Homo sapiens: one gene and its partners. The protein of the gene in region 3 purifies or fractionates together with the protein of the main gene of each other region. This does not show direct contact. Each region holds a gene or a part of one and is shown on either strand. Other genes may lie near its edges.

The links.
Region 1: the proteins of LEF1 (region 3) and FHIT purify together in Homo sapiens (affinity purification with western blotting; one study listed by BioGRID and IntAct). This does not show direct contact.
Region 2: the proteins of LEF1 (region 3) and STAT5A purify together in Homo sapiens (affinity purification with western blotting, with the first as the bait; one study listed by BioGRID). This does not show direct contact.
Region 4: the proteins of LEF1 (region 3) and OTUD7B purify together in Homo sapiens (affinity purification with western blotting; one study listed by BioGRID). This does not show direct contact.
Region 5: the proteins of LEF1 (region 3) and MVK purify together in Homo sapiens (affinity purification with mass spectrometry; one large-scale study listed by BioGRID and IntAct). This does not show direct contact.

Annotation. Positions count from the first base shown.
Region 1 is NC_000003.12:60,533,312-60,537,952, reverse strand, and holds part of FHIT (bis(5'-adenosyl)-triphosphatase), read left to right. Parts: intron 1-973; 5' UTR 974-990; coding exon 991-1,093; intron 1,094-4,641. UniProt on the Homo sapiens protein: Possesses dinucleoside triphosphate hydrolase activity. Cleaves P(1)-P(3)-bis(5'-adenosyl) triphosphate (Ap3A) to yield AMP and ADP. Can also hydrolyze P(1)-P(4)-bis(5'-adenosyl) tetraphosphate (Ap4A), but has extremely low activity with ATP.
Region 2 is NC_000017.11:42,308,971-42,313,584, forward strand, and holds the end of STAT5A (signal transducer and activator of transcription 5A), read left to right. Parts: intron 1-76; coding exon 77-128; intron 129-406; coding exon 407-514; intron 515-1,536; coding exon 1,537-1,699; coding exon of another isoform or gene 1,700-1,760; 3' UTR 1,761-2,973; downstream 2,974-4,614. UniProt on the Homo sapiens protein: Carries out a dual function: signal transduction and activation of transcription. Mediates cellular responses to the cytokine KITLG/SCF and other growth factors. Mediates cellular responses to ERBB4.
Region 3 is NC_000004.12:108,158,275-108,162,915, forward strand, and holds part of LEF1 (lymphoid enhancer-binding factor 1), read right to left. Parts: intron 1-4,641. UniProt on the Homo sapiens protein: Transcription factor that binds DNA in a sequence-specific manner. Participates in the Wnt signaling pathway. Activates transcription of target genes in the presence of CTNNB1 and EP300.
Region 4 is NC_000001.11:149,947,592-149,952,232, forward strand, and holds part of OTUD7B (OTU domain-containing protein 7B), read right to left. Parts: intron 2,631-4,641; coding exon 2,503-2,630; intron 2,188-2,502; coding exon 2,038-2,187; intron 1,493-2,037; coding exon 1,378-1,492; intron 1-1,377. UniProt on the Homo sapiens protein: Negative regulator of the non-canonical NF-kappa-B pathway that acts by mediating deubiquitination of TRAF3, an inhibitor of the NF-kappa-B pathway, thereby acting as a negative regulator of B-cell responses.
Region 5 is NC_000012.12:109,580,184-109,584,824, forward strand, and holds part of MVK (mevalonate kinase), read left to right. Parts: intron 1-1,211; coding exon 1,212-1,367; intron 1,368-4,641. UniProt on the Homo sapiens protein: Catalyzes the phosphorylation of mevalonate to mevalonate 5-phosphate, a key step in isoprenoid and cholesterol biosynthesis.

The DNA of each region.
Region 1 (4,641 bases), on a different chromosome or scaffold from region 3:
TATTTTCTAATTTCATCCTTTTTGTAATCCTTTCTCTGTTTTTCTGTAGATTGATCCATGTTCCTCAGTTTCATACTAGGCTGTTCCCGAATTAGAAAAATGAAGTAGTTTTCTAGGGATGGTGTTTCTTAGTCATTCACAAAGTGTGTCTTAGTCATTCACAAAGTAACTTTGTCATGTATTGGCATCCACCTGATTGAAAAGTCATTCCTTGGTGCTAGATGGATTTGGCTTGTCTCAGCTGTGCCATTTGCCAAATTCCCTTCAGCCTCCCTTTCCTGCCCCCGGCCCCCCATGGCTTTCCCTCAAAAGGAAGACGCAGAACATTTCAGGTACCTTGCTGCTTTGTGGCCCTGTTACAACCAGGAATTGTTCTAGTTTTGAACTCCGTTTTGCTCCTTCCTTCTTTTTAAATGTTTTTTTTCTCCTTTATTTTGGAGATTTTACTAGAATAGTTCTCTGGAAGTGCTCATGTTTTTGTAATTGTAGGCAAGGTCAGACAGTGTTCGTACTTGTTCTAAATTGCTATTATATGAACACAAAACCATTTGAGAGAAGCATTTAAGAATTAGAAGGTTTATAGTTAATACTTAATGAAAATTTTCAGCTTAGCAGACATGACAAAATAGATGGGTAAAAATAAGTAGCTGACAAATAGGGCCTTGTGGATTTGAGTTAAGGTGGCACCGTGAAGTGCAGAGGGAGTGAAGGGGAAAAGCTGTTTTATTGTCCACGTGGAAGCTTCTGCTTGAAAATTGCTAACTCTAATCAAGGAAACACTGGTAGGGAGAGTGGAGTATTTTAGAAAGACTTTCCCAGAATGCATCTTGGTGAACATTCAATGAGGAACAATTTCAATGGCATCCTCTCTGCAACTAAGAATCTGTAGTAATGGAATTTGCTTTCTTTAAGGTGGTATATGAACTGAGTTTCTTAATTGAATTTTATAACTATCCATTGTCTTTTCTTTTAGACTTCAACTGTGAGGACATGTCGTTCAGATTTGGCCAACATCTCATCAAGCCCTCTGTAGTGTTTCTCAAAACAGAACTGTCCTTCGCTCTTGTGAATAGGAAACCTGTGGTACCAGGACGTATCCTTTCTTTTTTTTTTTGGAGAGGGAAAATAAAAGTCTTCTGAGCCTAACCAGCCAAATGAATATAAATACAAGATTGGCCTCCAGTCTGTCCAAAAAGGTAAATAAAGAATCCATCTCCCTCCCACTTCGGAGACACCAGGTAAGATGTTACTCATATTTATTCTGAATCCAGTTGGTGGCACCAGTAATATGCTTGATCAATGTTGCAGAACTTCTGAGGAGAGTTGCTTAGCAACCGTGGCTTTGGAGGTGAATTTTTGCTTGACCTTTTCACTACCATAGCTGAGTAAATAAATAGGTGCTTCTAAAATGAGCCCAGTGAATATCACGGGCACTTGGTTTTCAGCTTATCTGTTGTGAATTTTAATAGTAGATTGAGTGGTGCCTTTGTGATGTGGAAGTAAGATATGTGAGGATTTGAGACTGACTTTGTTGCTTTACCTCTTGGAGATCATTCAAGTTGTGCGTTTTAATTAAATTTATATTATAGATATACTTACAAATTTTTTTTAAAAAATATTAGGACCTGAAATAGCATTTTCTCTTGGGAAAAATACCAGCTTGCAGATCATTGACCAGTGTCATTGGTGGAGTTGTTTTATTTCCCTCTGACCACTGAGTTGTAGTCTTTCCTCCTATAGACTTCAATAGGAGCTTTATTCTTTTGCAGTGGGAATAACAAGTATTGGTGAAATGCTTGGGAAGTTATCTTTATGTTGTTAAAAGTTTCACTCCTGATTGTGTGCATATGAATTTTGTACGGACTCTTCAGGATGTTTTTCTCTTTCCTCCTTCACTTAGTTTGCCATGCAGAAGGCAACAGAATAAAATTTGATATTTTCAGATAATAAGTATTTTCCACGCTGAGACATGATTTTGCTTTGAAATGAATTTCTTAGTAATTCTGAATGTACAAATATGCCAAGAGGTTTTTCAGAGTAAGCTACATTTTTTTTCCAGTGAAAATGTGGAAAGTGCCTGAGAACTTTATGAACAAGCTTCTTTTCTAGCCACGTAACTATTGTATGCTAAAAAAAAAAAAAATACAAATAAGAAAAACATGTACCAAAAGATAATTGTGATTGTATTATAGACTCCCAAATTTCTGGAATCCAAATTCTAGTCAAATAAATTGTATTAATTTAGAAAACTAATAAGCAATACTCTAGTAAATATGTAAGCTTTTCTTAATATTTAAAACTCTTCTTTTAAATGAGTCTAAATAATATTAGAAAACTATTTTCTTCTGTTTATTAAAAAAAAACACTAGAATGATTTAGAAAAGCCCTAGAAAACAGCACTTTTAATTTTAATACCAATTGTGTATTGAAATCTTTTAAAAGACCTGAATTTCTTGAAGTAACATTTTATTTTGCTATAAGTTTGTAGTGGGCTTTTTCCTTTGGGGTTTTTTAAAGCAAAATGTCTGTAAATTCAGGTGTTAAAAGAATATGGTTTAAATGCCATCTCTCTCTAGGTGCCAGCTTTAACTGACTTTTAGAAAAGAAATAAAGGGACCTGGGATGAAAATATGAATTTAGACAAGATCCATTTGTCTAAATTCACTCTCATTCCTATGAAAATTAGAGGTCACAGAGATGTACCACTTTTTTTTGTTGTTGTTCCTTTTGAGGCAGAGTCTCACTCTGTAGCCCAGGCTAAGTTGCAGTGGCACAATCTTGGCTCAGTACAATCTCTGCCTCCCGGGTTCAACCGATTCTTGTGCCACAGCCTCCCAAGTAGCTGGGACCACAGGCAGGCACTACCACACTGAGCTAATTTTTGTATTTTTAGTAGAGACGGGGTTTTGCCATGTTGGCCACTTTTTAAAATGGTTAATAATGGAATGAACTCTGCTTTGTAGTTTTTTTACTCATATCTTGAGAGTAATTTGATATTTCAGACTTTTTAACAAACTCAGAAAAAGTGATGTCTAAAACCAGGGCATACCTGAGTTTGAACTCAAGAAAAGTAGAAATGTCTATGTCTAGGAAAATATCTGTAGTGAATAGTGAGCAAGTAGTGAATGACAACTCGTTTCTTTGTAGATGGCACTGGTGTCACCATTTGGGAAATGAACCCTGCTCAGTTACTTTATATTTGAGTAAATACCAAGGGCTCGGAGAATATTTTATTAAAATTAACACACTTCAGTTTGTTTGGAAGGTAGCAAGAAGGATCCAACCCTCTCTGATTATAAGAACAATGAGAACCAGAGCTTTTTTAAAATCATTATACTCTATAAGTCTAATTAACAGCTGCAGTATTTAAAACAGTCTCAGGGCCAGTAGACAGTGTATTCAGACAATGCTTTTTATGTGATGATTTTGTAACTTTTTATTTTACTTTACCTTTATAAACTCTGCCATGTTACAACTGGGAGACGCATCTTTTTTTTTTTTTTTTTTTTTTTTGAGACGGAGTCTCGCTCTGTCGCCCAGGCCGGACTGCGGACTGCAGTGGCGCAATCTCGGCTCACTGCAAGCTCCGCTTCCCGGGTTCACGCCATTCTCCTGCCTCAGCCTCCCGAGTAGCTGGGACTACAGGCGCCCGCCACCGCGCCCGGCTAATTTTTTTTTTTTGTATTTTTAGTAGAGACGGGGTTTCACCTTGTTAGCCAGGATGGTCTCGATCTCCTGACCTCATGATCCACCCGCCTCGGCCTCCCAAAGTGCTGGGATTACAGGCGTGAGCCACCGCGCCCGGCCTGGGAGACGCATCTTAATAAGGTACTCCTTTGCTTGCAGAAAGCTCTAGTCTTTTGTCCTGAGACTTGAGAATGGAAGATGTGGATAGCTCTGTCCACTAACATTTCATAAATAAATGGTGAGATGTCTGGAGTGGGCTTTTATCTTCCTCCAGTGTTCTCTCCTGCCTGCCCTAGTCTAGCCCTTAGGTGTGGTTCATCTAGATTTATGCTGTCTCCCTGCCTCTGGGCTTTTCCAATGTAGCCTATAACTTTATCTGAACCACAGCCCTGACCATATCATTCTTCTCTTCCCTTGTTAATAAACCAATAAGGAATGTCTGTTTTTTGAGGATAAAGTCCAAATTCCTTAGAATAGTTTTTAAGGACCTTCATTGTACTGGCTCAGTCTCCCTTCTTTCCGGCTGTTCCCTGAATATGTGTTGTACTATCCCTTTACTATACTTTCTCCTGCCCCTCACCTCAACTGGAGATTCCTCCCCATGCTTTTCATTTCATCTGAAGTGCTTTGATAACTGTCCCCTGCTCCTAGGGAAGAAAACAAAACAAAACTCTGTCCTCTGTTTGTGACACTCACTTCCTTATTCTCATGTTGATTCATTCAGTACTTTATTACTGAGCTCATACTCTGTTCCAGGTACCAAGACCAAACACACAGCCCAGTCTGCCTCATATCCAAAGTACGTGCATCCCTATTTCTGTCTGCACTGAGTCTTTGCTTCCTATGGACGAGACCTGCTCTTGCACATCTCTTTTTTCTTAGCATCCAAATGTACTGTGTTCACTGAATCTAAAGTGAAGCTGGAAACATCAGGAGTATATGCATTGTTCCAGT
Region 2 (4,614 bases), on a different chromosome or scaffold from region 3:
ACATGGGGCGTGGGCTTCCACCCCACTTGGGAGTTCCCAGAGACTTTGGTTCTCACCACTGTTCTTCCCTTGACAGCTAAAGCTGTTGATGGATATGTGAAACCACAGATCAAGCAAGTGGTCCCTGAGTAAGTGTCCAGGTGGCTGTGGCTCTCCTTCTGCCTCTTTCCTCCTCCCCCAGACCCTGCCTCCCATCCTGATCCTGGGCCCAGCTTTCCGCTCCCCCAGGGAACCTGTCTCAGCCCTGGGGAGGGAGTCCCCTCTCCTGTAGCTGGAGCCCCAGGGCCGAGTGGGGCACTTTGTCCGTCTACACCCCGAGAAAGACAAACATGCCCCTCGGTCCCCTCCCCAAGTCAGCTGCCCCGGCCTCCCTGGTGGCTGAAGCTCTGTTCTCTTCCTTCTGCAGGTTTGTGAATGCATCTGCAGATGCTGGGGGCAGCAGCGCCACGTACATGGACCAGGCCCCCTCCCCAGCTGTGTGCCCCCAGGCTCCCTATAACATGTACCCACAGAAGTAGGTGGTGTTCTCATGGGGTCCGCAGGGGAAGAACTGGGGACTTGGCCCCAGGCTGGACTCCTGGAGGGCTGGCGGGCAAAGGATCCAGAGCTCTGGTTAGGCCCAAGTCCAGGAGGAGTGAGATCAGCCAGGAAAACAGAGCATTTTGAAGCTAGACATAGCAGGGTCAAGTCCTCACTCTAGTACTAACTGTGTGATCTTGGGAAAATGATTGAGCCTCTCTGATGCTCAAGTTTCCTTATGTGTAAAACGGAGGCAAGAATGCTTGCCTCATGAGAATGGGATGAGCATTAAACTGAGACAGTGTGGGTGAAGCATTTCCACAGGGAGGGGCTTGGAAGGGCTTGATACAGGGTAGCTATGAATGGGGTGGTTGTTCTTGAGTCTGGTGGGAACAAGGTAGATAATTAATTCCCTTCCTCACTGTGGATAGCCAGGGCTGGATGTCTGGGAGGTACCACCTTCCAGTGGGACCACTGAAGATCCCAGGTTCCAATCCGGACTCCACCACCTCCCAGCCAGGTGGCCCAGAGCAAGCTTCCTGATATGGCCTTGGTTTTCTCGTCTATAAAACGGGGTCAATACCCACTCTCCAGTTGGCTGTAAAAATTGGAGTCATGTGCTCAATAGGCTCAGCTGTTCTAGGTGCTCAGTGAAAAGATTCAGCTGTTCTAAGTGCTCAGTGAACGGGGCGGTGCCTACCATTGCAGCTGAGCATCATTGCAGGTGGGCAGAGCCCACTGTGTCAGCCACCTGGTTTTAAGATGAGGACACGGAGAGGGGAAATGAATTCCCTAAGATTATTCAGTGAGTTAGCAAGAGATGCGAATAGAGTGGGGGTCTGCAGAAGCCAGTGGGCTGACTGCTACCCAGCTTGGGGTGGGGTGGGGGCATCCAGCCAGAACTGGTCCTGTTCTCATGAGACGGGTTTGAGTGGAGAGCAGGCTGGAGGCTGTCCCCAGGGAGCTTGAGGCTGTGAGACATGCCAGCTCCCTCTGACATCCCCCTGTCTTTACCAGCCCTGACCATGTACTCGATCAGGATGGAGAATTCGACCTGGATGAGACCATGGATGTGGCCAGGCACGTGGAGGAACTCTTACGCCGACCAATGGACAGTCTTGACTCCCGCCTCTCGCCCCCTGCCGGTCTTTTCACCTCTGCCAGAGGCTCCCTCTCATGAATGTTTGAATCCCACGCTTCTCTTTGGAAACAATATGCAATGTGAAGCGGTCGTGTTGTGAGTTTAGTAAGGCTGTGTACACTGACACCTTTGCAGGCATGCATGTGCTTGTGTGTGTGTGTGTGTGTGTGTCCTTGTGCATGAGCTACGCCTGCCTCCCCTGTGCAGTCCTGGGATGTGGCTGCAGCAGCGGTGGCCTCTTTTCAGATCATGGCATCCAAGAGTGCGCCGAGTCTGTCTCTGTCATGGTAGAGACCGAGCCTCTGTCACTGCAGGCACTCAATGCAGCCAGACCTATTCCTCCTGGGCCCCTCATCTGCTCAGCAGCTATTTGAATGAGATGATTCAGAAGGGGAGGGGAGACAGGTAACGTCTGTAAGCTGAAGTTTCACTCCGGAGTGAGAAGCTTTGCCCTCCTAAGAGAGAGAGACAGAGAGACAGAGAGAGAGAAAGAGAGAGTGTGTGGGTCTATGTAAATGCATCTGTCCTCATGTGTTGATGTAACCGATTCATCTCTCAGAAGGGAGGCTGGGGTTCATTTTCGAGTAGTATTTTATACTTTAGTGAACGTGGACTCCAGACTCTCTGTGAACCCTATGAGAGCGCGTCTGGGCCCGGCCATGTCCTTAGCACAGGGGGGCCGCCGGTTTGAGTGAGGGTTTCTGAGCTGCTCTGAATTAGTCCTTGCTTGGCTGCTTGGCCTTGGGCTTCATTCAAGTCTATGATGCTGTTGCCCACGTTTCCCGGGATATATATTCTCTCCCCTCCGTTGGGCCCCAGCCTTCTTTGCTTGCCTCTCTGTTTGTAACCTTGTCGACAAAGAGGTAGAAAAGATTGGGTCTAGGATATGGTGGGTGGACAGGGGCCCCGGGACTTGGAGGGTTGGTCCTCTTGCCTCCTGGAAAAAACAAAAACAAAAAACTGCAGTGAAAGACAAGCTGCAAATCAGCCATGTGCTGCGTGCCTGTGGAATCTGGAGTGAGGGGTAAAAGCTGATCTGGTTTGACTCCGCTGGAGGTGGGGCCTGGAGCAGGCCTTGCGCTGTTGCGTAACTGGCTGTGTTCTGGTGAGGCCTTGCTCCCAACCCCACACGCTCCTCCCTCTGAGGCTGTAGGACTCGCAGTCAGGGGCAGCTGACCATGGAAGATTGAGAGCCCAAGGTTTAAACTTCTCTGAAGGGAGGTGGGGATGAGAAGAGGGGTTTTTTTGTACTTTGTACAAAGACCACACATTTGTGTAAACAGTGTTTTGGAATAAAATATTTTTTTCATAAATTTGCTGCTATGGCTCCTGGTTGGGGCGTTGGTGGCCTCCCTGGGTGATGGGAACCCCTGGAGCTGGTTGTTCTGTTCCTTCCCGCGTGCATGCCTGATGCTGTCATTTTTAGTCTTAAATTTTAACTCTGCCCGCTTTGCTGTGGTTTTCAGGGTGCTGGCCACCCCTGGAATACTGTCAATGCTTCTCAGAAGGGTAAGGAGCCAGTTTAGGGGGCACAGATTCCTTAAAAAGCAGGGGACTCGAGGTTTGGGGAAATGATGGAGATGGGCGCGGGTGGGCAGAACTCTGACCCAGGCTTCTCCTTAGCAGCTGCTGCTCCCAGCAGCCTCGAAGCTGGCGGCTGAGGGCCCGGCGCCAAGATGCTTCTCAACCCTCGGGGCCAGGGGCAGTCCCAGAGCCGCAACAACCGTCCCATCCTCCTCCTTCCCAGAGACCAGCAGGTGGCACCACGCGGCTGCGCTGTTTTCAGCTGGCTGCCGGCGACTGTGCGAGGCGGAGGTGCAGCAAGCGGGACCGGCTCGCCCCGGCTGGACCCCCGCACTGCCGGCTGCAGCCAGTCCCTGCTGTCGCTGGGGCCCTTGGGCTCAGGGACGCGCGCTCCCTGGGCGGGGCTGGGAGCCAGGTTTGCGGGCAGGTTCCTTCTGAGCTCAGAGCTCAAGCGAGGGAGAGGGGCGGCGCGTGGGCCCCAAGAGGGAGGTGCAGGGGGCCCAGAGCAGGGGGAAGGCGGGGGTGGGAGAAGAGAGGAGGGGAGGGGACGGGCAGGTGCCACCGCCCCAGGGGGCTAATCTGATCCATCTCTGCGAGGGAAGGTGCTCGCTCGTAGCTCCCAGGCGCGGTCTCCAGGGCGCTGGGGCACGTGTAGGGGTGGGGAGAAGCCCTGTGGGCGCCCGCGTAGCTGAGGTTGGGGCGCCTTTCCCTGCATTATCACCGCTGGCTGCCGGGGGCCCTGCAGCCACCACCGGGTGTCTGCGTGTTGTCCCCGCTGGGTGAACTGAAGGGAAAGTGATAAAGGAGCCAACTGTGGAAGGGGAGGCCTTGGTGCGGTGGGAGTATCTACCCCCCACCCCGCTTAGGTGGCTTATCTGACCCCAGACAGGACGAGGCCGCTCTGGGGGGTAGGAGGGGGCCGGGGAGGGAGGCCTCCACTCTGACACCTTTCTGCCGTTGGACTATTGACCTCCTGCTCCTCCAGGCACCCCTTACCTCCGGGCTGGTGGCTAACATAAGGGGGTTGGCGGGGGGGATTAAGGCAACCACCTCCTCTCAAGACCCTTTCCGGCCCTTATCCCAGGCCCCACCTGTGTGTGAGGCCCCCTCAGAACTTATGCAGGGGAAAAGGAAGCCTCCACCAGCCAAACAGAGCTGCCATGCTATCAGACGGTTCCTATATAACGTTTATTTCTGGAAGTTAAAGTAGATACAGCAATATACCAAAAAAAAAAAAAAAAAAAAAAGACAAAAAACCTCACAATAATATAAATTTTTACACTATGAAGTACACATTGGAATTTGAATGCAGTGGCCAGGACAGCAGCTTATAAACCACCTTATAGGTAGGTAAGCAACCCACGGGATTCCCTCGGCTGGGCTGGGGATGGGGAGGGGGCAGTGGACAGGAAGCGGGCAGGGCCTGAGGA
Region 3 (4,641 bases):
AGGACATGTAAGGATAGCACAGAAGAGTACTAAGTGTCTTGATTACTACAGTATTAGCTTCCTACAGATTGGCTCAGCTCAGCACAAACACTTAAGCAACAGCTTCAAAGAGGACAAGTTTTAAATGAACATTCCCTTAAAAAAAGAGAGAGAGAGAGAGAGCGCGCAACCTTTAGTCCCAGGACAGCAGCACCTACATAATGCTGAGCTCTACTTTTACCTGGGAATAAAACATATATGTTTTTCTGCTTGCTACAGACAGTGCTGGCATGTTTTCTCTTTAAATTCCAAGTCTTTTACCAAAATCAAAAGGAAATCAGCTTTATAAAATTCCAGTCATGTCTATGATACATAAATGAGGAACAAAAGGAGTCAAAAATGAAGTGTTTTGATTGCTCAAAAAAAAATTCAATCACATAAACCCAAATGGTTCTGTCTAAAGAACATTAAAAAAAAAAAACTCATCCGCTACAAAATTGATATTATAGCAAGTGCTTGTGAGTCTACAAATTCAAGTCCAGAGAGTCCCATTTGTGAGACCCTACCTCTGCTCTGTTAAATCACATAAGGGTCTCGGACCACAGGGAAGACTCGATCAAAATAATGAGGTTGATGAGAGCAAATCTAAGACCTGTATGGGAGTGGAAAAAATACTTCAAAAGCAAGATTTTTGCGGATTGGCTCAATGGTCTTTTTTTTAGTGTGTGGTCTTTTTTTTTTAAGACTATCTTTTGGGTTGTTCTCATGTCTTTATCAATGAAGAAGAAACTACTAGGGTCATTTCAAAAAAACTATCTGAGTAAGAACCAGGCATGTAAATGCAATATTAGCTCTGCAAGGGTTACATGTAGTATGGCTTCCTGGCACACTTAAATAAGCAAACTGGCCATAAGGTATTTGATGGGGGAATGGCAAGCGCTTCCAATTATTCTGACTATGATCCTGTCCCAAATTGTAGCAATGCCATGAAGGAGGGATCAAACAGGAAACTTTGGGGGCTCTGAGGAATTTTCCCACACATTCTCCTGACATCTATATATACATTTGAGTTAGAATAATACACTTTCTAAAACTTATTCTCCACTTGAAGGGGAAAACTCAATGTGTTTAGCTTCAAAAAGTGCACAACTTAAAATAGAAAAGTGAAAATTATTTATAGGTTAAGTCAAATTCAATAGCTTCTTGCAATAAAGTGAAAAGATACTCTACCTTAAAAATCTTGCATGAGATATAAGCCTTAGTCTCCATCTATCCTTGAATATTATTTATGTGATTATTTTCAAAGGTATCCAACAATGTCACGTACAGTGGTACATTCAGAAGCTTACTGATTAGACAAGTCCAACTTAGTTCCTTAATTCCAGATGTGAACAATGACAAAATCAGATTTTAGCTGTTTATAAGCAAGTACAAATATGCAGGGTAGGTAAGACAAAGTTATAATAGGTATAATTCTGTTTAATAGAAACCAAAGTGTTGATTCCCTTAAGGTAAAAGTCACAACAGAACTAAGTTATACAAGGTAATTAGAAAAGAACTCATGGAACATTTTCATAGCAATTTCTACTTTAAAAAAATAAACATTTTAAAAGATAGCTGAAATGAGAACACCCATATCTTTCCTTTCCCACCTAAAAATTGACTCTTAGAAAGATCACAAAGAACCAAAAACAATGAAGTTTGCAGCGCTACACTGACCAGGTGTTATTGTGGTTTGATGTGACTGAGCTGCAACGTTTGCTGCAGCTTCCTGCACTGTGTTGCTTTTCCCTCCCCAAGCATCTGAAGAGAAATGAGATGTTTCTTTTCTAAGGTGTTAAACATTTGGGTTGCATGCGGGACAAATGGAAGATTGACGCCTAAGATGAATAACCACAGTGCATTAGGCCAGTGGGAACTTTCACTACATTAAAGCTGGCCAAGCTCACCATTCACACGGTGTTCAGGCACACAACTGCCAGAGCCAAACTAGGGATGTAAAGAACTATTTTTTTCTTTTAATACTTTACCATTGGCCTACAGGGATTTTCATAAATAAAGTTCAGAGAACGAAAGGTTTGGGAGTATGCTTTTAATAAACTCTCCAGGGTCCTGGCTCTAAAATATTTAACAGGCTTCTGCATCTTCTCTTCACTCTCTGTGAAGAAGACCAACTCAAGCCAAAGTTTACTATGCCCTAAGAACTCACGCTGACACCAAATATGTCATGATAGGTGCTTTCTTCTTAGACCCAATTTATCTGAACTAAGAATTCTTATTTAAAATTCTGTGAGAGACCCATTCATAAGATTTCTGGTATAGACACATTCACACCCCTAAGGATTCCAGTTCTAGAAGGATGTAATTTGCCAATTAAAATTCCCCTTGAGAAGAAAAAAAGCTGAGTAGGTGAAAGTGGTGCTCCTGAACAGGTAATACTGTATATTGGTCATAGGTAAAATCTGTTCCAGGATACACACAGTAGCATTTGTCTAAAAAATAAGCAAAAGCATATGCACTTTTTATAATTAGATTCCAGCAGAAACATTTCTCTGCATGCCAGTTGGCCATAGCTGGTATCCTCTGGATTGTCTGCAGTTAGATACAAACAGAAGACTGTTTAGGGAAGGAGTGGTCAGGTCCCTCCCCCACCCCAGGTGTTTTTCCAGTCCTAACACTTTTGGGAAGCAGATGCAGTAAACAAGCAATTGTTTGTAATGGAAATTCAAGAAGCAGGATGCCAAGGGGATGCTCCCATCCTAAGCCCAAACACAAATGGTCACCATGCTCCTGACACCCTAGATGAAAATCTATCACTGTGGATGTTAGTGACACAAACACTCAGCCCTGCTAAGGACAGAGTTAAAGAGCAAGAAGGCAGAAGTGTGGTTAGGGGTGAAGAAGAGAGGCTGTCTTCCGGTTAGTGTTTTTGATCTCCGACACATTAAAAACAGCTGTTAGGTATTAAAAACCAAAGATTGTAACTCACTTCGGTTGGACCCTAAAAAAAAAATTTACATAGTCTTGTGGTTACAGCTGAAAAGCTTCTGGAATTGTGCAAACTGCAGAATATCTCAAGAAAACATGCCTAAAATAAATACATCCTAATATTTAACAGAATAAAGCAAAGCAACAGATAACAGGGTAAGGTAACTGTTTCCTGACCACACCTCTTTCCTACACTTTACCCAGACCAACATTTATTCTGGCCACAAATCTTTCCTAAACAATGAATGACTGTTTGATTCACTGACCTCAAAATTTTAATACATACACTAACAATAAATACCTTCTATCAAAAGATATTTTCTATCAAAATTTCAAAATGACTAGTATACTGGTAGATTGGGAGAAAAGACTGTGGAAACACAAGGCAGAATGCTGGCATAAAGAGGAAGATCAGCTTAATTTTCAATATTCTTAGGGATTGCTTATAAATACCAATAAATTTTCATTATATTGATTTTTTAAAATTACCATTTTGAAAGGAGAAGTAGCTGATCTTTTTAAGAAATAAATTCCACAAATGCTGTATACTCACAGCTGAAAAACGTAAGGCTGTTTTGTGGCTATTTTCTATTGTCACCAACACTACTTTGATTTGGAAAGATTATTTGTTATTCTGAAAATGATTTAACAGGAATCTTCAAATATTCCTTATCTAAAACATATTCTCCTTCCCTTCTCCACCCCCTCCAAAAACAGCAAAAAAACCTGCCCAAATATTAAAGAGATATCTATATATTTGTATGTTTTGTTCAAAAATTTAAAGTCTCCTACAACTTTTAAAACTCAAGCATTTATTTGAGGGGCCTCTAAATATTAAACTATTTTTGCTTTTTTAAATTACTTTTTAAGTAGGAGATTCATCCTCATCACACAGACATCTTTATCATTAAATACTTGAAAAGCCTTAAAATAAAATATGAAATACCTATTTCTTACAGCAACCATCACAAGATCTCCCTCAAGATTAGAACCCCAAGATCTCCACTTTAACTACTATATAAAAATTAGAAAAAGCTTATTCCTTAGCTGAGAGATCAAATATCCTTTAGCAATTTATTGGAAAATAATTACAATAACATCTAAATTGCAGTGCTCAAAGTGATCATATTTGATATAAGTATCATTTCAACAACTGAAGATTATGTGTAATGATAACCACAAATACTCTTGTTGATAACTGTTGATTTTGAGCCACTATTCTCTGCTAGTGAATCTTCTCACTCCCAGATTTTGTTCACTAAGGTATTAACAACGTTACTCTTCCCAGATGTTTGTGACTGATTTTTTTCAGTTGGTAGAAACACTGGGCAAGTAAGTCAAACACTATAGGTTCCATTTTACAATCTGAGATTTGACCTCCAGGGCTGTCAGTGAGACTGGAACCCTAATCCCCGAGACCCATAGACATGTGTTTTTCATTGGGGGTTAGGTGATAAAGGGAGAGTGGGGCTGGAGAGAAGGTAAATATATTGATGGGTCAGTAAAAAGTCCGTCACCAACGCTGGTGGGCTAATTCTAAGAGAGAACTCCATCACCAGCACATTTTACATCTACATACTACACAAGTTACCATTTAGGTATTTTCTCACTTAAATGAGGTTTCCACTTCCTAAGAGAAATATCATCAAATAAACCTGAAATTCTTTATAATGT
Region 4 (4,641 bases), on a different chromosome or scaffold from region 3:
GGAAAGAGCCCAGCACAGTGTCTGGAAAATGGGAAATACTAGATAGTAGCCATTATCATTGTTGTTGTTGTAAATATTATTTAGAAGGAGCTTTTGATAAATAGGTGAGAGGTTATTTTTAAAAAGCCATAAACTCTGGATTTTAAAATCAAACTCTCTTAGCTGGGACCCAGTGGCAGGAGCCCAGAGAGTGAAGCACTAGGTAAGTGCTAAGGGAGGAGCTTTTGCATTCATACACTCTCCATCAGGAAGTTGATGCAGGAGGCAGAAGGAAGGCTTAACAAGCCACAGGGAGGTAGAGTGGGGGCTGAGAGGGTAGGGAACATATTTTTCTTGCTATTAAATTCCAGAAAGGCAAAAACTCAGAGCAAACTATTTTTATCACGTATTTATTTATTTATTTTTTGGATGGAGTTTCACTCTTGTTGCCCATACTGGAGTGTAATGGTACCATCTCAGCTCACTGCAACCTCCGCCTCCTGGATTCAAGTTATTCTCCTGCCTCAGCCTCCCGAGTAGATGGGATTATAGACATGCACCACCACGCCTGGCTAATTTTGTATTTTTAGTAGAGATGTGGTTTCTCCATGTTGGCCAGGCTGGTCTCAAACTCCCGACCTCAGGTGATCTGCCTGCCTCGGTTGCCTGTTCACTCTGATGGTGGTTTCTCCCAACATGCTGGGATTACAGGCATAAGCCACCGCACCCAGCCTTGATCAACTCTTTAAAACTCCTCTCACTTGGGCTAAGACATGTGATTTGATTATCCTGATTTTCTTTCTTTCTTTTTTTTTTTTTGAGACAGACTCTCACTCTGTTGCCTAGGCTGTAGTGCAGTGGCACGATGTCGGCTCACTGCAACCCCTGCCTCCTGGGTTCAAGCGATTCTCCTGCCTCAGCCTCCCTAGTAGTTGGGATTACAGGCACGCACCACCACGCCTGGCTAATTTTTGTATTTTTAGTAGAGACGAGGTTTCACCATATTGGCCAGGCTTGTCTCGAACTCCTGACCTCGTGATCCACCCACCTCAGCCTCCCAAAGTGCTGGAATTACAGGCATAAGCCACCATGCCCGGCCTGATTATCCTGATTTTCTGATCAATGTTTTAGAGATGAATCAGTGTATGAACACTTTTCCTATTGTAAGAAAAGAACAAGTTGAGATGCTAGGATTCCCATCTCTTTCACAGGGAGAAAAAGCAGCTGCACCATGAAAGAGTCCTGGTGCCCAACCTCTCCTCTACCTCCCCATCTTCCCAAAACTCATCTTAGCTTGTGACTGTCTTGCCTGAGCTGAGGAAAAATCCCTGGGAGATGGATGCCACATGTGGAAGAAATCCCAGCACAAAATAGATGAAAAGACTAGGCCTGGCTTACCTGGCCAATCGGACATTGTCACTATCATCTTTGCCCCACTCCCAGCCCTTTCCAGGGTCCACAGCAAAGTGCAAGGGCAGCAGCTTATACTCTGAATCTGTAAGTGGGATCACAGCTGGAGAGGAAGAAACATATCATCAAGGAATCTCCTTAAGAGAGAAAGGTAACTGAACACAGACTTATTTCACTAAAATCATACTAAGGTCTTTAATTGTAGTCACTTCTCAATTCTTACACGTGAATTACCCCGGTATTAAAACTAATTGGCTAGTTTTCCCGCTACCACGCAGCATATGTTTTAGGCCACAAATCTCCCTGAGTCCCCACCAGTCAGTCAACTAACTCTCATGATGTTCTTTCCAGTTAATGTATATTCAGAGAATTCAGTCATAATTTAAGACAAATTAGAAAAGCATCATTTAGAAGCTCTTACACCTTAATCATAAGCCTTTACTCCAGAAGAGGGTATATAGGTCTTGCTTTTCTCCCAACCCTTTTTTTTTTAATTTGAAAACTCTGGCGTAACTTCTGGCTTAATAAAACAGTATCAACATGTGCTGTCTGGGCTTGCATGTCACTTAATTCTTTCCTCCTACATTAGATCTCATTCAATTTTTTCAAGTGAAAATAATGCAGACCAAAAGACATGTCATTCAGCACCTTGTTCCTTGGTATTCTCCTTCTGCTCCATGGACACGAGTGCAGAAAAGTGGGCCTGATCATAGGCGAGCACCAGAGGGGAGCGGTGACACTGGCTGGCTGGGACCTCCAAAGGCAGATAGATTCCTCCAAAGGGAATAGGGGCAAATGCTGCAGGAAGCCATGAAGATTATTATGAAGGCTGTGTTTCTGCCTAGTGGACAATCCCTACATCCCACTCTGCCAACTGAGTCCCTCCCTGCTTTCATTCCAACATGTTTAATAATTCTTTCCTAAGAAGCCCTGTCAACTAATCCCAACTGCTTTACTCAGAATCTCTTGAGAATTTTGCACTATTCTAATTGATAACTTGCTTTTTCCCCAAGGGTCTATATATCCCCTTTCCTGCCTTCCTTCCAATGCTTAGCCTAAGGCTTTGCAAAAGGGGGTGCTCAGCATGGAGTGAGGACTGACTGGCTGACTCACCTTCCCCTCCGGAGTCCCTCAGCATGGTGTCTGCCACGACGACTATGGGCCTCCTAAGCACATGAGCAAGGACAAAGACGTGAAACTCTTCAAGGCTCTCATATACAGGCTCCTCAGAACTCTCCACCCTGGAACGACGGGAAGGGAGAGAGTGAAAAGGGTGCAGTAAAAATGAGAGAGTAGAAACAGGAGACCCTGAAGACCAGTTCTGCAGAAAGGGAAAAGAAGAATGTCCTTTCCTGGTTTTCCAATCTTAAGGCTGCCACTGATATAGCTGATTATTTTATGCTACCATGGCTGTTTCTACCTCCGTTTTCACAGATGGGGAAATCCAAGAAAAGAGATTTGAAGGCTCTAGGGTTAAAGCAGTGTTAGGAATTTGGAGGTAATCCCTATCTCTTAATATTCTTCCTGTTCAATAGCCTCTCTCCATTCTCTTCATCCAGTAGCTCAATACACAACTGCATAGCTTCATCCTACTTATTTTATATACTACAGCCACCCACACATCACACTCATGTCTTACAAAAACAGCCAAACACAATTCCTTTCCTATGTTCCTTTCCTCACTGAAAGAACAGCTTCACCATCTATCCAGTAGCATAATCAGAAATTTGGAAATATTTATTGTGCTTTTATCTCTCACCTTCCAGTAGTCACGTGATTTAACCAATTCCATCTCCCGTGTGTTTTTTGTTTTTTTTTCTTTTTTTTTTTTGAGATAGAGTCTCGTTCTGTCCCCCAGGCTGGAGCAGTGGCGCGATCTCGGCTCACTGCAAGCTCTGCCTCCCAAGTTCACGCCATTCTCCTGCCTCAGCCTCCCGAGTAGCCGGGACTACAGGCACCCGCCACCTCGCCCGGTCTAATTTTTTGTACTTTTTGTATTTTTTTTTTTTTTTTTTTTTTGTAGATGGAGTCTCACTCTTTCGCCCAGACTGGAGTGCAGTGGTGCGATTTGGGCTCACTGCAAGCTCCACCTCCTGAGTTCAGGCAATTCTCCTGCCTCAGCCTCCCGAGTAGCTGGGACTACAGGTGCCCACCACCATGCCTGGCTAATTTTTTTGTATATTTAGTAGAGATGGGGTTTCACCGTGGTCTCGATCTCCTGACTTCGTGATCCGCCCGCCTCGGCCTCCCAAAGTGCTGGGATTACAGGCGTGAGCCACTGTGCCTGGCAATTTTTTAAATTTTTAGTAGAGACGGGGTTTCACCGTGTTGGCCAGGATGGTCTTGATCTCCTGACCTCGTGATCCGCCCGTCTCAGCCTCCCAAAGTGCTGGGATTACAGGTGTGAGCCACTACGCCTGGCCTTCCTGTGTGTTTCTTTTATCTGTCTCCCGGGCTTATCTTTAGTCTACCACACTGTTCATCCATGGCCCTTTCCTGGATTACTACAACTGCATCTTATCCCACTCCTTTCCACTTCATTATCCACTGGAGTCAGCGTGTTCAAATACGGAGGGACAAATTTGCTCCTGTCATTCACATACTCAATATTCAATGGCTTCCACCCCCTAAAGCAATTTTATTCAATATTGGATGCTGATTACAAACAAGGATTTCTGGGCCTTACCTCTGTCCAACTCAACTGGACTTTTCTGGGGTGGAGGTCCAGAAATCAGCTTTTTAAATAACTCTCCCAGATTATTCTTATGTACAATAAAATCTGCATAGGTTATAATTTTTAACCATTATGGAAAATTTCAAAATTTTAAACATATTCAATACTAGAAATGATAATATACTAAACACTCATGTATCCATCACCCAGCTTTAACAATTATAAACACATGGTCAACCTTTTTTTTTTTAAACAGAAAGTTTATTACAGCATATTACAGGCTTGTGTCAGTACTAAATTGATCAATAAACAGATTCTAGCCTGCACTTTCAGGAATGCACCCAAAGCTACTCCTCAGATCTAGAGTAGCATGGGAACTGCTTGCTGCTCCTGCACTAATTTTTTTTTATTATACTTTAAGTTCTAGGGTACATGTGCACAATGTGCAGGTTTGTTACATAAGTATACATATGCCACGTTGGTGTGCTGCACCCATTAACTCGTCATTTACATTAGATATATCTCCTAATGCTATCCCTCCCCCCTCCCCCAACTCCACAACAGGCCTTGGTGTGTGA
Region 5 (4,641 bases), on a different chromosome or scaffold from region 3:
CCTCGACCTCCCAGGCTCAAGTGATCCTTCCACCTCAGCCTTCCAAGTAGCTGGGACTACAGGTGCGCACCACCATGCCTGGCTAAATTTTTAAATTTTTGTAGAGATGGAGTCTCACTGTGTTGCCCAGGCTGGTCTCAAACTCCTGGGCTCATGTGATCCAACTGCCTTGGCCTCTGAAAGTGCTGGGATTAGAGGCATGAGCGACTGCACCCGGCCCCAGCCTCTCTGTTGTTGTTTTTGTTGTTTTTGTTTTTGTCCAGAACCCAAAGGGAAAAAAACCTCAAGGGGGCAGCCCTTCCCTTGAGCAGCAGATGCTGGCTCAGTGGCCAGGCTCTATGCTGAGGACACATTCGGAAACGGCCTGATACTTGCCGTCCGAAGCAGAATTTCAACTTGAGAGAGGCATGTCCCCTTAAGTGGGTGAGGGGCATTCCAGAATCTTCCAGGCTGGGTGGGGTGGGTACGTGGAATTTGAAGACGCACATTATTACAATTTTTCTATTTGGGAAATGGGAAAAGCACTTCGTGGAAATTACCAAACATGAAGTTTGACAGTTCTTGCTTGGGGGAAATACATGTAAGATGTAGCGATTCGGACCTTTCTGGTGATCAAAAGCAGACCCGTGTTACACATGGTTGGGGAGCACCGTCTGGCGGGAGAGGCCCCGGTGAACACACAATCCTAGTGTGCGGTGGTGAGGCAGCGGTGGAGGGAGGGAGGGCAGGCGGGGGTCCTAGAAGGGGAGCCAGGAGGGTCTTTGTGGGCAGCTACGGAAAGTGTCACAGTGGAAGCGACATTTGATAAGGCCTTGAGAGATGGGTAGGGATTTCTCTGTGGGATAAGGAGGTGCACGGCTATTGCAGGCAGAGGGGCCAGCCTGTGCTCAGAGCAGGCCCACAGAAAAGCCTAGCATGTGGGCACAGGAAGGAGGTGGGAGAAAGGGGTTGACAGCTTGCCAGGTGCTTCTGGGAAGGGCTCTGGTTGAATGACCCAGGGATTTAAATGAACTTGATACCTGTTTTCTAGTTGTCTGATTCAGCATGAGTTCCTGATGTTCAATAGGGATACATTTGGGGTCAGGAATTCTCCCCCAGTTGAGAAAACTGGACCAGATGCTTGGAGTCAGGCCTGGGCCTGGCCCCTGGTTCAGTGCTGGCACCCCACTGCCCTGCGGGAGAGTCACGTTTCACACCCTGGTGTGTTTCAGGGCCCTGCCGAGCCTGGATATCGTAGTGTGGTCGGAGCTGCCCCCCGGGGCGGGCTTGGGCTCCAGCGCCGCCTACTCGGTGTGTCTGGCAGCAGCCCTCCTGACTGTGTGCGAGGAGATCCCAAACCCGCTGAAGGACGGGGATTGCGTCAACAGGTAACCATGGTCCTTACCTGGCCAGTGTCCCTCCCGCACGGCAGGACAGGGACGTGGCTTCTCTCACTGAGACCTCACCACCTCCCTGTGAGGTGAGAGGTGTCATAGTGGCCATTTTAACATGAGGAAGCTGAGCCCCGAGAGGTCAAATGGCTGGCCCAGGGCCACACAGCTAGTGCTGGCAGAGTGGGATTTGAACTCAGAGTCTGAGCTTTTCTCTCCTGCTCTCCACCACCTCTGCTCACCCCCATCTTGGCTCTGTTGGTTTCAAGCGCCCATGGTATGGTAGAAAGAGCTGGAGTCCAGATCTAGAGGGCAGCAGGTTAGATGAACCCTCCCACCTCTGCATTGACTCAGGCTAGGACAGTGTTCTCCTCTGTATGGTAATGACAGTGCCCTAGGGGTGATTGTCCAGTTTTACCACATGGTTATGAAAGAAACTAAGAGTTTGCTGAGAAATCCACATTAGGGGGTGTGCCCATTAGACTAGGGCATCTCTCCTCCTACGGGGCCGTCTCCACGGAGGGCGTGTCACCTCTCTGCGTTCCTATTGACCACGTGAGTCAGTGAGGCCTGTCCAGACAGGCTTGACCACAGACCATTTCTATCATTAGGAGAATGTTCCTTGAGAAACCACCCAGTGCGCAGAGGTTACGCAGTTTGTCCCAGGACCAGGAGTTGTGGATGAGGCCCCCAAATGCAGAGCTCTGTCCTCTTCCTGGGCTTGTTTTTGTTTTGTTTTGTTTTGTTTTCTGAGCTTGGTTTTTTTGTTTGTTTGTTTGTTTGTTTGTTTGTTTGTTTTTTGAGATGGAGTCTCGCTCTGTCACCCAGGCTGGAGTGCAGTGGTGTGATCTTGGCTCACTGCAACCTCTGCCTCCAGGTTCAAGTGATTTTCCACGGGCCAAAGGACTGGCCCTGTCTTTCAAAAGGTGGAGGGTGACTGTGTGTGTGCACTTGCATGTGTGTGTGTTCTTATGCTGCTTCTAACCATTTCTCCCACCTTCCCCTGAAGGCCAGTCATTCCTTCTCAGAACCCTTAGGGAGAGTAGACCTCCCACCCCACCCCACCCCACCACACCCCACCCATCATGTGTTTCTGAGTCGGAAAGGACTGGAGCCCAGTCTCCTTTGAAGACTCAAATCTGAGCCCCCTAAAAAACAAACTGTGTAGAGCAGGAGGAAGACTCACATTTGTTGAGAGGGCCAGGCCCTGGGCTAGGTCAGCTGCCTGAGTTACCTTCCCCCGCCTCCATCACTCACTTCATCCCAGGCACGCTGCCACCTGTTGGTCCCTGGGAAGGGCCAGCCAGCTCTGGTGTGGTTCCAGTGCTGCACAAGTGGTGTGTCTGGAATGCACCCCACACACACACCTTGCCCAGCTGGCTCCCCTTGTCCTTCAGGCACCACCACCCCGCCCCAGCCCCCAGCAATTCAGCCCATCGTACTCTTACAGAAACACCTGGTTTGTTTTTGTTTTTGTTTTTTTAACTATATTATCATTTATTAAATGTAATTAGGTAGCTCTGGATCCTTGGTCTGTTTTTTTTTTCTTTTATTATTATTATACTTTAAGTTTTAGGGTACATGTGCACAATGTGCAGGTTAGTTACATATGTATACATGTGCCATGCTGGTGTGCTGCACCCATTAGCTCATCATTTAGCATTAGGTATATCTCCTAATGCTATCCCTCCCCTCTCCCCCCATCCCACCACAGTCCCCAGAGTGTGATGTTCCCCTTCCTGTGTCCATGTGTTCTCATTGTTCAATTCCCACCTATGAGTGAGAATATGCGGTGTTTGGTTTTTTGTTCTTGCGATAGTTTACTGAGAATGATGATTTCCAATTTCATCCATGTCCCTACAAAGGACATGAACTCATCATTTTTTATGGCTGCATAGTGTTCCATGGTGTATATGTGCCACATTTTCTTAATCCAGTCTATCATTGTTGGACATTTGGGTGGGTTCCAAGTCTTTGCTATTGTGAATAGTGCTGCAATAAACACACGTGTGCATGTGTCTTTATAGCAGCATGATTTATAGTCCTTTGGGTATATACCCAGTAATGGGATGGCTGGGTCAAATGGTATTTCTAGTTCTACATCCCTGAGGAATCGCCACACTGACTTCCACAATGGTTGAACTAGTTTACAGTCCCACCAACAGTGTAAAAGTGTTCCTATTTCTCCACATCCTCTCCAGCACCTGTTGAGAAACACCTGCTTTGAAGTCACATATTGCAGTGTCATGGATTTGTTTGTATTTGAATACTGATCGCTTTCTGACCTTCACTTTCTCCATTAGACTCTAAGCTCCAAGAAGTCAGGGACCTTGTCTGTTTTGCTCCCTACTAGGAGCTTAGTCACAGGCACATAGCAGTTGCTCAATAAATGCTGAATGAATAAGTGAGTGTATCTTGTTGGCACCATTAAGTTAGTAGCTAAGAGCTTGGGCTCCAAGTCAGCAGATGTGGTCCTGACCCAGCAGTGAGTAGCACTGTGATCTCCAGGATGCTGTTTGACCCATCCAAGCCTCAGTTTCCGTTTCTGTAAGAAACAGGATAATTATTATACCTTCCCTGTAGGGCACAATTGGGAGGATTATGAACCATTTCTCAATGGTCCATTTGAGAAAGCATTTAGCACAATGTTTGGCACATGCTAATCAATAGTATGTTAACTGATGTTAACTCATTATTAATCATAGTCTCACAGCTACCATGTGAGTTGCCAAGTCCGTAAAAATCCTTATTTGGCAGATGAAGAAAGAGACTCAGAGCAGGTAATTGACTTGCTCAGGGCTCACAGCAAGTAAGTGATTGAACCAGGCCCCCAGGCGCTGTGACCCCAGACGGCCTATTTTGAGGGGAGCACATCCTATCTCCTGGGCATTACACAAAGCACTTGTGTATTTTTTCCATCTCAATATCCTCAGTGAGATAGACACTATTATCCCTGTTTTATGGATGAGAAAACAGGGTTTAAGGTGAAGCAGTTGCTCACAGATGCCCAGTGAGTCAGTGATAGGATGGGCTCCAAAAAGGGCTCACTGGCTGGGCACGGTGGCTCACGCCTGTAATCCCAGCACTTTGGGAGGCTGAGGTAGGCAGATCGCTTCAGGTCAGGAGTTCGAGATCAGCCTGGCCAACACAGCAAAAACCCATCTCTACTAAAAATACAAACATTAGCCAGGCGTGGTGGCAGGCGCCTGTAATCCCAGCTACTCGGGAGGCTGAGGTAGGAGAATCGCTTGAACCCAGGAGGCAGAGGTTG